4 linked regions of the Homo sapiens genome follow. The protein of the gene in region 1 interacts with the protein of each later gene in a pairwise test. Each region holds a gene or a part of one and is shown on either strand. Other genes may lie near its edges.

The links. Proteins that work in one complex are often made in the same cells at the same time.
Region 2: the proteins of BCL2 (region 1) and AMBRA1 interact in binary tests that used the Homo sapiens proteins (3 or more experiments, as listed by UniProt).
Region 3: the proteins of BCL2 (region 1) and BFAR interact in a two-hybrid assay, tested with the Homo sapiens proteins (one study listed by BioGRID).
Region 4: the proteins of BCL2 (region 1) and AVEN interact in a two-hybrid assay, tested with the Homo sapiens proteins (one study listed by BioGRID).

The regions. Positions count from the first base shown.
Region 1 is NC_000018.10:63,125,090-63,128,101, forward strand, and holds part of BCL2 (apoptosis regulator Bcl-2), read right to left. Parts: 3' UTR 1-3,012. UniProt on the Homo sapiens protein: Suppresses apoptosis in a variety of cell systems including factor-dependent lymphohematopoietic and neural cells. Regulates cell death by controlling the mitochondrial membrane permeability. Appears to function in a feedback loop system with caspases.
Region 2 is NC_000011.10:46,433,524-46,437,023, forward strand, and holds part of AMBRA1 (activating molecule in BECN1-regulated autophagy protein 1), read right to left. Parts: intron 1,515-3,500; coding exon 1,326-1,514; intron 106-1,325; coding exon 1-105. UniProt on the Homo sapiens protein: Substrate-recognition component of a DCX (DDB1-CUL4-X-box) E3 ubiquitin-protein ligase complex involved in cell cycle control and autophagy.
Region 3 is NC_000016.10:14,646,451-14,649,950, reverse strand, and holds part of BFAR (bifunctional apoptosis regulator), read right to left. Parts: intron 1,564-3,500; coding exon 1,359-1,563; intron 148-1,358; coding exon 1-147. UniProt on the Homo sapiens protein: Membrane-bound E3 ubiquitin ligase that plays a role in several processes including apoptosis regulation or reticulum endoplasmic stress. Has anti-apoptotic activity, both for apoptosis triggered via death-receptors and via mitochondrial factors.
Region 4 is NC_000015.10:34,004,705-34,008,204, reverse strand, and holds part of AVEN (cell death regulator Aven), read left to right. Parts: intron 1-3,500. UniProt on the Homo sapiens protein: Protects against apoptosis mediated by Apaf-1.

The DNA of each region.
Region 1 (3,012 bases):
ATCTTGATTATTATAACTCCTCTCGATTTATAATCACTTCCTAATTTTTCCCACTGGGCCAGAGCTACATCTTTAGATGATAAGCATTTACTAATAAAACAAAGATCACATATAAATGGAAGGCCACATCTGAACACAGAGAGGTAAGTGAGCTGTGGAGAGAATGTTGGCGTCTTGTTTGAACTAAATTGAGGTGCTTCCTTAATTCTGTGACTTTATTCCAAATCTTAAGCCTGCCAGAGTTTTCTGCCCCTGCCAAATCTTCGGAGACGACCCGATGGCCATAGACCCTGTCAGCTGTCATTCTGGCCTCTCTTGCGGAGTATTTGTGCAGCGAGGGACTGGGAGGGCCGAGGAGGTTCTCAGATGTTCTTCTCCTTTTGGGGCTTTTTTTAGAGCCCTTGTCCCCAATTTGGAAAGTGCATATACTCTATTTAACTCTGACCCTGGCCAGTGTAAAGAGGAGTACATACAGAGGACTGTTTTTTCATTCATAAAGAGCAGTTAAGATGCAGATGTGAATCCCTCTTCAATACAAAATAGGGATGGTTCTCTGTTGCCCAACTGCAAAATAATTAGATATAATGAAAAAAAAGAAGAGGAGAAAAAAATGACTAGTTGAGGCTTTTATATACATTCATTGCTTCTAACATGTTTTTAACAATAAGGAAAATGCAACATCAACTACTCTTAGAGCAAGTGCAGCCACAATACTGTACAGTTCTGGGGCCAAGAGGCTGGGCACATTTACTGTTATTAAAACCAGGTAACAAAACCCCACAGCAAAAGGCAGCCAGCCAGCAATTAGCCCCCGTGACCTCTTAATATATATACATTTTTCAAATACTCTGTGAATCCCGTTTGAACAACAACAAAAGACAAAACAGGCTTTATATTAAAAACGTCCACGTTCTTCATTGTTACTTCTAAAGCAGCTTGGAGGATCTTACCACGTGGAGCATACTGCAAACTGACTCCATTAAAATGATTTTGGCAGGATAGCAGCACAGGATTGGATATTCCATATTCATCACTTTGACAATGTAAACCTTTCATAAAATAATATTTTGCTTAAAAATTAGAATCATTCAAAGGTCTGATCATTCTGTTCCCTGAGGCCCGCCGGGGAGGTCTGGCTTCATACCACAGGTTTCCTGCTTTCTTGGTGGAGCGTAAGCACCACTGCATTTCAGGAAGACCCTGAAGGACAGCCATGAGAAAGCCCCCGCGGAAGGAGGGCAGGAGGGCTCTGGGTGGGTCTGTGTTGAAACAGGCCACGTAAAGCAACTCTCTAAAGGTCAAACCACCATAGATTTGAATCTGCTGGTCATTTGCCATCTGGATTTTTAACTGAATGAATCTCATGGGTTTAACCAAACATGCATGTAATCCTGAATACCATGAATTAAATGCGGAATTGCCCAGGGACGAGGAAACCTTCAAGAAACAAGGTCAAAGGGACAACAGATATAACTGTCACAATAAACAATTCTGTTGACGTGGAAATGCACATGACTTGGTTGAAACAAAGCTCCTCAGTGGCCAGTGACATCCAGGTTTTTCTTAGGTAGCTGAGACTCAGGGCTTATCTCACCTTCTCAGAATGCTTTTGAAGAATCAAGAGATAAAAATCTCAAACAGAAAACGATCACCTTTGCTCACAAATAGTGTATAGGCCATAACTAAATACAATTAAAAACAAAAAAACGCTGAGATGCATGTATTTTTTTAAAGCAGCTTTCGAAATATCAACCACAGCATTAAACATTGAACAGAGTACATTCCAAAGTTAATACAGATAAATGGTATATAATGCAATAATGCCACAGAGTTATTCCATCAATGTTTCAAGGCTGATTCTAAACTGGAAGAAAAAAAAATTTCCTAGTTTATTTGCTGAAGATGTCACTTCTTTTGTTACTTCTTTATAGTTCCCCACCATTGATTTTTTTTTTAATGCCCCAGGATGTACAGATAACCCCCATATTCCACACCTGGAACTTTTTTTTTGTCAGGTTTTCAAATAAAACCAAACTACAGTGACAAGATAATGTTTTACATGTAATTCCATAGACAGGGGTCAATTAATCCATGACACCTCACTTCAATGCTTCTTTTAGGATTTGTGACCCTCTCCAAAGTCATTTAAAGCCTTGCTTTAAACTCACAGGTGGGCCAAGGCCACACAGCCAACGTGCCATGTGCTACAGCCAAAATGGGCCGTGGCCATTGCCTCTCCTCACGTTCCCAGCCTTCACCATGTCCTTCTGATAGGAAGGGCCCAGGGCCTCTGTTCCTTCCCTCTACAGTGATACATGTCTTAAGAAGGGTCGTGGCTCCCATGCTCCACGTGAAAACGGGCCTACCTGGAGGGCCCCAGGGTGACAGGCCCAGCCACACCCCTCTACTGCTCTTTCTTGACAGTGGAATTCTGAGCTCCATCAGCTTCCAGACATTCGGAGACCACACTGCCCTGTTGATCATCCCTGGAGGAGGCCAGTGAGGGCCCCGGCTCAGTTCCAGGACCAGGCCTCCAAGCTGGGACACAGGCAGGTTCTGCGGACTTCGGTCTCCTAAAAGCAGGCACTTGTGGCGGCCTGATGCTCTGGGTAACTCTAGCCTTCCTGATGCGGAAGTCACCGAAATGTTCACTTCCTCAAGTTCCAGAGGATTCTGTTTCTTACTCAGACAGAGCCAGTATTGGGAGTTGGGGGGTGCGTATCCAAAATATATGAATATACACAATCAGGGCTTAAGGTACTGGATGATATTGTATAAATTGCTAAAATGCTTTTCTCGGCACAATTGGTAGCTTAAAAAAATACTTTCCTATGATTTAAGGGCATTTTTCCCATCGCTGTCCTTCGGCGTGGAAATCTCAGTGGGTACTAGGTCCATCTGAAGTTCCCAACTCTTTTCCTCCCACCAGGTATGCATCATGTGAGTCATATGCAAAGAGTCTCTTCTTCAGGCCAGGGAGGCATGGACTTCCCCCCACAGGAACCCTCCCTC
Region 2 (3,500 bases), on another chromosome or scaffold:
CCACCATGTGCTCTGTGGAGGGGTGCAGCAGGATCCTTCGTGAGGCCAAGCCCACCATTACATATCTGCCCATTGGGGACAGGCTCACCGAAATGGCATTGGGACCTGAGGGCCAACAAAACAGAGAAATATTTCCTAGGCTTCTGGCCATTCCAAGGAAACAACTTTCACTCTTACTCTTGTCTTTTTCTCTAATCTTCATATTCACTTGCTCATCCTGGTGTTATCTCATAGGACTGTAGTGAGGAGTATGATGAGAAGGCATATACATACTGAGTGTAGTGTTTGACATATAGAAAGCACATAATAAGGCTGAACGCGGTGGCTCATGCCTGTAATCCCAGCACTTTGGGAGGCCGAGGTCGGGGGATCACCTGAGGTAGGGAGTTTGAGACCAGCCTGACCAACATGGAGAAACCCCATCTCTACTAAAAATACAAAGTTAGTCAGGCGTGGTTGCGCATGCCTGTAATACTAGCTACTCGGGAGGCTGAGGCAGGAGAATCGCTTGAACCCGGGAGGTAGAGGTTGCGGTAAGCTGAGATCACGCCATTACATTCCAGCCTGGCCAACAAGAGTGAAACTCCGTCTCAAAAAAAAAAAAAAAAAAAAAAGAAAGAAAGTACTTAATAAATGCTAACCGTTGTTATCAACATTTTAAAAAATTGTTAACATCCTGTAATTACTATTTTGAAACCCACCTTTTTCATTTAATACATTATGAACACTGTTCTGTAAGAGCATTTTAAGGGCCAATGGAGCAGTTCTATCACTGCACCATCATTTGTTTAGTCAACTCTTAAAAAAAAAACAAAAAACACTTAAATTCAACTCAAGGTGACACCAACAAAACACCCACCCCACCCTCCCGCAAAACAAACAAACAAACAAACAAAAAAGTCTCAAGGCAACAATTTGGCATTTTTCTGTATGGTAACACTGCTGTGAACACCCTTGTATGTAAATCTTTGTATAGTTTTCTGATTATTTCCTTAAAAGCTGGATTGCCAAAGAGCTGACACATTTTGGGAGGTTTTAAATACACAATGCCAAACTGTCTTGCAGTGCATGTGTGTGCTACAACCACCTCCTCCCTTATTCCTGACCGTCGTAACAGGGGCATGCGGTAGGACTCTAATGCTCAGATGCTTCTGCAATGTTACTAGCCAGCACTCCTGCAAAGCAATCTTTCTCTGGCCTGTGCCCCAGTGAAGGTAGGGGCAGTATGTGACCATTACTCCCACCCAAGCTGTGCCTCACCTAGCAATGACCATGCCAAGGCACCAGCGTCCCTCTGTCATTAGGTTGGGCTTCCTATCCCTTACCAAATCGCTTGGTGTAGAGCATTTCGCCCAGGTTATGGGGGGCCAGGGAGTACACTGCCAGGATGCCTTCATCAGGAAAGCCCCTCTGGCTGCTGGGGATGAAAGCTGCCAGGAGCTGGCCATCTGCAGAAATGTCACAGCTGGCATCATTGTAGATCTTGCAGTTCTGCACCAGCACATTCACGGAAGCTGCATCAGACAAAGAAAGAAAAGAGGATAAGAAACTTTGGAGTTGATACTGTAAAAATTCTGGGGCCAAGAAACTTTAGGGACTTCCTAAGGGCCTGAACCTTGTCTAGAAATGCTAAAGAATACCTTCTCATTCAAACTAAAATGTCAAATGAACAAAACACAGGAGGCAAGAAAAGTATGTCTCTTCTCCCACCTTAGCAGGAAACTATAGGATAGTCAACACCACCACAACCACCTGCTGAGTCTTAGTTCACATTTAGGAAATACCGCTTGAGAGATTAGATAAGGAAAAAGTTATTAAAAATTATTCCTAGAGAGCCATTTAACAGCTGTTATTGTCCCAGAGATCAAAACCAAGATAAATGAAAATGCAAACCCACTGGTTCCAAGAAAAAGATGATACAGGTAGAGCTTTCTTGGGGCAGGAATCCTATTCAACACCTGTTATGTGACCTTGGAGAAGAAAGTCATTTCATAAATTTGTATCTTACTTTCTCATTTAAGAGAAAGAGAACTGGAACATCTAGAGACCAGTTTTCTGGAACAGCTCCTTGCTAATACTAATCTCTAACTCTACCAAGAGAGGAAACAGAACAAAGCCCAGCTGCGGCTGGATGGCCAGGGCTCTTTTCATTTCCCACTATGCTCTATGCCAATGTCCATGACAGCCCTAGTCTGCACTTTGCAGCTCCTGAGAACAAACTGCAGGGTCAGGCAGGCAGCAGGCTCAGCCTGGTAAGGTGGCAAGATCTGAGGGTGGAGGAATGTCTGTTGGTGAGGAGCATCCACTCCACACAACAGCACCAATGAGATGTTAACTGGCACTGTGCCTATAGGCCTTGTTTCGGTTTTCATTTGAATCCCTCTGAGTCCCACCGTGTGATTCCCTGCCAGGAAGAAGTGGCTTACCCTTGATGTGAGCATAGAACAAGAGTGCCCACATCATGGGCCCGGGCAGAACAGCACAACACATTCAAACAGACCAAGCTCATCAGGGCTTTGTCTCATGTAGATATACCTCAAGCAAAAAAACTTTTCACTGTTTCTCTTATTTGAAGGAGATGTCCACTGTCAGAGGCATTGTGGTAATTTTTTAAAAGCCAAGCTCAGCTGCCCTCGCCAGAGTCCAGGTGATCTACTGCAGTAATCCAAAAAAAGTCAAGGGCAAGTTTCCCTAGGAAATTACCTCAAGGAAAACAAAACAAGGAATTGCTCTTTCAGAGGCCCCCAGGCTTATGTGATCTGATACTTAAGAGTGATTTGTAAAACTCTATTTGTTCTCCTTTCCCTGTGTGTTGCTAATGAGATGACAGTGTATATCAAAAAAGGCATTAGAATACATTGATTAGGCTATTGTGCCAACTCGGGGGCTGACACCTACAGCACCATTACACATAAAACCGAAGAGGGACCACAAGGATGGTTCTGTTTGCTAACTAATAAAATAATGATATCCAAATACTCACTGCTATCACCATTAGGCCTTTCTACTGCTCAACTCCCAACCCACCATCTGGTCTAGCCTGTAAGGCTAGATTTATCTAATTAGCACTGGGACCGTCTGCTACTTACTACTCAGGGTCCCAAGCCCTTTGCCAAAACAAAAACAAAAACAAAAACAAAAACAAAACACGGCAATATCCCTCTCCTTTTCTGGATCAACACATGAATCCAGCTGGGGATATAGAACCAAAGGAACTGGGAGAAGTTTCAGAAGTGAGACCATCTTGGTTTTCTAACTCTGAGGCTGACAATGCTCAGAAAAATAAACAGAAACTAACAATTTACACTCTAACCACCAAAAGCAGGGAGAGAAAGAAAATAAAGAAATCATAAATGTTAAGTAGTACATGAACCTAAATAGGAAAGGAGATGAGACTCTATGGGCTTTAAGACAGCTTTGAACAGTTACCATTTTATCTACATTTAATGTCTCGAAAATGTCTGTTGGGTATGTTATTAAAGTAGACTTTCCTATCTTGC
Region 3 (3,500 bases), on another chromosome or scaffold:
AAACCTTTCCCTGTAAAGAGATGCCCAAGGGCCCAGCTGCTCCAGCCAGAGGACAACTTCTTCCGCCGTCCATTTGGCCACAGCCTTGTGGACCAGGAGGTCGTGTTCAGATTCCCTGCTGCTCCAGTGATAGACGAGCAGGACCACCTGGGGAAAAGTGACAGGGACTTTAAACCATGGAGAGGCAGAGATGCCAGTTTCTAAATATGCGGGTGGGAGGTGGGGAAAGGAAGAGGCTGAGCTCACAGGGAATGATGCGGAGCCCGTACACAGAAGCAGGGCAACAAAAGCAGGGCAACGCCACGGCCACAGAGAACTGGGGACCACAGCTCTCCTCGGGTGCCTCTCTCTGCTGATTGCGTGGCAGTGAGGGCACAGAGGCGAGAAAAGGACTTATCTCAGGCACCTGGGAGCAGGTGGTGCCTTGACTCCATCAACTTGCTCAACATAACTGACTTGTGCCTTTTCTACTGGAAAAACATTTAGATTTTTTATGCACAGAACTTTAAAAGAAAATAGTCTCCACATTGGAAGTTAGTAAACTGGTGGGTTCTTAAGACTGTATTACCAAGGAGGTCCAGGCGTGGTGGCTCACGCCTATAATCCCAGCACTTGAGGAGTCTGAGGCGGGTGGATCACTTGAGGTCAGGAGTTCCAGACCAGCCTGGCCAACATGGTGAAACCCCATCTCTACTAATCACACAAAAATTAGCCTCTTGTAGTGGCGCATGCCTGTAATCCCAGCTACTTGGGAAGCTGAGGCAGAAGAATCACTTGAACTCGGGAGGTGGAGGTGGCAGTGAGCCGAGATCATGCCACCGCACTCTAGCCTAGGCAACAGGGCAAGACTTCATCTCAAAAAAAAAAAAAAAAAAAAAAAGAGCAAGAGATGTAATCCACATAAAATTCACACATTTGAAGTGCACACAATCCACGGTTTTTAATGTGTTCACAAATATGTGTCATCATCACCACAGCTGGTTTTAGTTCATTTTCACCACCCTAAAAGAAAGTTTTTACCTAGATCGCACCACTGCACTCCAGCCTGGGCGACAGAGCAAGAGTCCGTCTCAAAAACAAAACAAAACAAAAAAAGATTGTATTACCAAGGCAGACATGGTCTTGAATTCCAGTTCTACCACCTTTCTCCATTTACTAGGTACTATGATCTGATCTACCTGAGTAAGCAACATTCCTGAGGAAATCATAGAACCCAGCAGATTTCAATGTACGTAGTAAATTACATGGAGTCACATCATCAATTATTTCAGTGATTTCAACAGAACTGACTTCAGTGGAAATCAGGGGTCGGGGGGTGAGGTGTGGGGGGGCACAGAGGAACACAGTGATCAACTTACTGCCACTCCAGTTAAAGCTGTGAGCACACCGGAAAAGAATCCCCCTCCCATCTGCTGATTCGCTCGGCCTGTGTTAGGAGCTAAAGGAATCTGATCATTCCCATATTTCTGAAAGGCTGCAAGACTTTGGACTATGTCATTATTCTGCTGAATGTCTTCAAATCTCAGTCTAATGGCATCAGGAAATAACTTTTCAATGGCATCCCTATGGAGAATAGAAAAAAAAAATTAAGACAGTTGTTTGACTAAATATCATGTTTAGAGGCCAAAAAAGCCCTGATAGTCAACATCTAATAATATATAGCTACCCTAGGAGAACTGACAAGAAATGTATTATAGTCCTGTGGGTAAAAGCAAAAAATCTGAAATAATCTATTAGGTTGTTTACCATTACTTTCTCCTTTTGTTTTTTTGAGACGGAGTCTTACTCTGTCGCCCAGGCTGGAGTGCAATGGCGTGATCTTGGCTCACCGGTGCACACCACCATACCCGGATAACTTTTTTTTTGTATTTTTAGTAGAGATAGGGTTTCACTATGTTGCCCAGGCTGGTATTGAACTCCTGAGCTCAGGCAATCTGCCCACCGGGGCCTCCCAAAGTGCTAAGATTAGAGGCATGAGCCACTGCACCCAGCCTACCATTACTTTCAATGGTAAAAACTGCAATTACTTGTGCACCAACCTGATGATATACATTTACTACTAGGTAAAAGGCTAAATGAAATATGGTATATTCATACAATGAAGTATCACAATTTTAAATGCATTTGCTGGATCACTAAATGTGTCAAGGTGGAGAAATTTAAGACGTACATAATTGATTTAAAATAGTAAACTGCAGAACCATGCAGAGAGCACATCAATGATGTGAGAAAATACTTGCATTTTCTATTGGCACTTGTTTTTTTTTTTTTTTGAGACAAGAGTCTTGCTCTGTCACCCAGGCTGGAGTGTAATGTCATGATCTCAGCTTACCGCAACCTCCGTGTCCTTCAAGTGATTCTCATGTCTCAGCCTCCTGAGTAGCTGGGATTATGGGCATGCGCCATTACACCAGGCTAATTTTTGTATTTTTGGTCATGTTGGCTAGGCTGGTCTTGAATTCCTGGCCTCATGAGATCCGCCTGCCTCGGTCCTCCCAAGGTACTGGGATTACAGGCATGAGCCACCGCACCCAGCCTGGCACATGTATGTTTAGAAGTATTTTTAAGCCGGGCGTGGTGGCTCACGCCTGTAATCCCAGCACTTTGGGAGGCCGAGGTGGGCAGATCACTTAAGGTCAGGAGTTCCAGACCAGCCTGGCCAACATGGTAAAACCCTGTTTCTACTAAAAATACAAAAATCAACCGGGTGTGGTGGTGGGCGCCTGTAATCCCAGCTACTTGGGAGGCTGAGGCAGGAGAATCGCTTGAACCTGGGAGGAGGAGGTTGCAGTGAGCTGAGATCGCACCATTGCACTCCAGCCTGGGCAACAGAGCGAGACTCTGTCTCAAAAAAGAGTATTTTGAAAAATCTGAGGCTGGGTGTAGTGGCTCACGCCTGTAATCTCAGCACTGTGGGATGCTGAGGCAGGAGGTTCACTTGAGCTCAGCAGTTGGAGACCAGCCTGGGCAACATAGTGAGACCTGATCGCTACTAAAAAGTTAAAAAAAAGTATTTAAAAAAATCTGAACAAAAGCACAACTAAGTCATAACTGAAATTATTCTAAGGAAAAAGGAAAGGATTCTAAGATGGGAAAATAAGGGGTCAAAAGGATCTTTAGTTTTATCAGTAATTTTCCAATATTTTAAAAAGAGGCTGGGCGCGGGGGCTCATGCCTGTAATCCCAGCACTTTGGGAGGCTGAGGCGGGCGGATCACCTGAGGTCGGGAGTATGAGACCAGCCTGACCAACATGGAGAAACTCTGTCTCTACGAAAAATACAAAATTAGCCAGGCATGGTGGCACATGCCTGTAATCCCAGCTACTTGGGAGGCTGAGGCAGGAGAATCACTTGAACCTGGGAGGCGGAGGTTGCAGTGAGCCGAGATTTTGCCAATGCACTCCAGCCCGGGCAACAAGGGTGAAGCTCCATCTTAAAAAAAAAAAATTTTAGCTGGGCATTTGGCCAGGCACAGTGGCTCACGCCTGTAATCCCAGCAC
Region 4 (3,500 bases), on another chromosome or scaffold:
AAGCAATCCTTCTGCCTTGGCTTCCCAAAGTGCTGGGATTACAGAAGTGAGCCATGGTGCCAGGCCCACCCATTATTTTCGACTATTTTTTTCTCCTGTGATAGGTGATTTTTTCTTCCAAGAATTTTGATAGGTTTAAATTCTAATCTGCAGTACCTCTGAGTGTGATCTTATTTGGAAATAGGTTGTTTGCAGATGTAATCAAAGATAAAGTAAGGTCTTACTTGATTAAGGTAGGCCCTAATCCAGTATAACTCATGTCCTCATAAGAATGGAGAAGATGCACACCCATAGAGGAGAAAATGCCATGTGAAAATGGCAAAGGAAGGAATGCTAAGGTTGCCAGCAACCACTAGAAGCTGGAGAAGGTCATGGAATAGATTCTCCCTCAGAACTTCCAGAAAGAGCCAACCCTACCAATACCCAGATTTCAGATTTCTAGCCTCCAGAACTGAGAGAGAAAAACATTTCTGTGGTTTTAAGCCATCTAATTTGTGATACTTTGTTATGGCAGCTGTAGGAAAGTAATACGGTACCAGGAAATGGGGTGTTGCTCTAACCAATACCTAAAAGTGTGGAAGTGGCTTTGGAATTGTGTAGTGAGTAAAAGCTGGAAGAATTTTAAGGTGCATGATAGAAGCAGCCTACGTTGTCTTGAAGATACTGTTGGTAGAAATATGGACATTAAAGGCGACTCTGGGTAGGTCTCAGATGGAAATGAGGAACATGTTAATGGACACTAGAGGAAAAGCGTGCCTGGTTTGAAAGTGGCAGAGAATTTGGCTGAATTATGTTCTGTACAGTTCTAATATGAATATGTAAGGGGCCGTCGGCTCTTCTGTTTGGAGAATGACATGGAGTTATCATGACAATTCTTATTATTAGAAAGTTGATTCATTTTTTTATTTCATTTTTTCATTTTCATTCTGCAGAGCAGGTGAGGTCAAAAATGACCCTTGCCTATTGGAAAAGCTGCAAAACATTAAGCTACTCTTTCTAGTTGAAAATCTCAATTTGTTTTAAATGGATTTGTGTGTGTGTGTCATTGGACAAGATAATAGCTCGGCAGTAGTTTGATTATATAATAGGTCTTCAGCTTATTAATCTAAATGGATTCCTGTTAATCTCTGAACAATGCAACCAGTGACCGATGTCCAGGTATGAACTATTACAGTGAAAACCACCAGACTAATTTTGTAACAATATTTATATGAAAATGATGCCTTTATCTTTATAGTTTTCACCTTGTTTTCTGATCAGTATTTTATTTGCTCTGTTCTTTTTCTCCATATTGAGGCTTTGCATATTTTTATTTTGTCTCACATCTTTGCACAATGAACCTATAAAACCTCTAGTTTTTAAGATACATCTTTCAGTTACATCAAATGTCTTCTAAACTTTTTTATTATTATATTACTTCTTACTACTCTCTTGTGAATGAAGGCTAATGACAACTCTGTCTCTGCATTTGTGTAGGGGTAATGAGATCCTTGTTCAGTGGTTCTTCTAATTTGGGGACTGGTGAGTTATTCATATGCATAAGGATCAGCCTATTATAAACACTTGGCAGGACCATTAATTCGGTTTAGGTCTCCCACTTTCCATTTCAGTGCTTGTTTCACTGCATTAATCGTTCCTTAGGTGTTTTAGATCATAATCCTCTTTTAGATCAAGGTAATTATTTTGCCCAGATTTACATTTTTGCCATGTGTTACAGCTGTGTTCAGAGGTTTTATAGGTTTTATACTGACTGGAGAAGCCTCTCTGAACTCTGTTCACCCAATGGGCCAACAAAAGAATATTGAATTTTCCCAGACAAAACCCTGCTGGTGTTTTCAGCTCTAGTTCTGTCCCGCAAATTCTCATCAGTTACAAGGCTGTTTTTTTTTTTTTTGAGACGGAGTCTCGCTCTGTTGCCCGGGCTGGATTGCAATGGCGTGATCTTGACTCACTGCAAACTCCGCCTCCTGGATTCACGCCATTCTCCTGCCTCAGCCTCCTGAGTAGCTGGGACTACAGGTGCCCGCCACCATGCCCAGTTAATTTTTTGTATTTTTAGTAGAGATGGGGTTTCACCATGTTAGCCAGGATGGTCTCGATCTCCTCACCTTGTGATCTGCCCTCCTCGGCCTCCCAAAGTGTTGGGATTACAGGTGTGAGCCACCGTGCCTGGCCAAGGCTATTTTCTGTAGAATGTTCCTGGTATTTGTTATTTACATAGCAGATTCTATTATATCTCTTTAATCTGCCAGCATCTTTTGGTTCTGAGAAACTTGCAGGAATGCTCTAGTTTTCAGGCAGTCTTTGCAGTCCCTAGATCATAATGTAGAACGCCATCTTTTTGTTTTGACAGGGAGGCTTATGATGATATTTGTGGGCTGAACGTGATCTTGAAAGGCCAATTAGTCTATTTCATGAAAGTGTATGAAAGTTGATTCAGGTGAGGATTATTGACTAGTGTTAAATTTGTTAAGTGAATGGTTGGGGAACTAGAAATTTACAGTGGATCAAATAACACTGCACAAACAATTTCCTCGATGAAAGAGGGAAGACATATCTGTACAGTGGGTGAGTGGATCAGACTTCATTATCCAAACCCTGTGGTCCATCTTAGTTATTATATATAGTGCTTATGTTTGTTCAGCCATCTTATGTGCTGTAACAAAGGGTTCAAAGCAGCATCTGTATTTTAGCCAAAAATATTTAGCTTGACTCCATTGAGCACTTACATTTTTAAGATTAGTTTATAGATAATATTGGAGATAAAAAAAATCTGTAAATAATACCATGAGGAAGCAAACAGACCTAGCCTGGCCTTGTCAATAAGTCAGGGTCGTAAAAATAGGGACTGTGCTAGATTCAAAGAGACTTAAGGAATAAACAATTAGATACAATTCCTGGTCCTGGATTGGATACTGTCTTGGAAAAACCAGCTGTATAGGACATTTTTTGGGTTACGGAAATTTGGAACTAGCCTGGATGTTATATGAAATGAAATTTATTAAGTGGAGAGATGAAGAATATTTTTTAAAAATCTAGTGACCAAAAAGAAGTATATATAAATATATACATAGAAAAAGATCTGGAAGTATGTGTACTGAGGGGTTAGTGGTACTCTGTGGGTGAGGGAATTTGGGGTTTTTATATATTTTAGTTTTGCTTGTCTTTTCCTCCTAATTTTCTCCAGTGCATATGTCCTGCTTCTGTGTTAATAAAAGCTCATTATTTTTTTTAAGTCCACACTAACCCATCCTATACAGATGAGTTGTTTTAATAATTTTACTCATTTTTTTCTTGATAAGGATTTTGTAATGTTTGGGACACATCTTTGAACCATGTCTTTAGATTCTACATGCATCTCTGTTTTAAAAATTTAATATTCTATTATGAAAAAATTTAAATACATGCAAAAGTAGATAGAATAATAATACAGTGATTTTCCATGTACCCATCATCCAGCTTCAGCAATTACCAATTAAGTATAGTATATTTCATGTCTA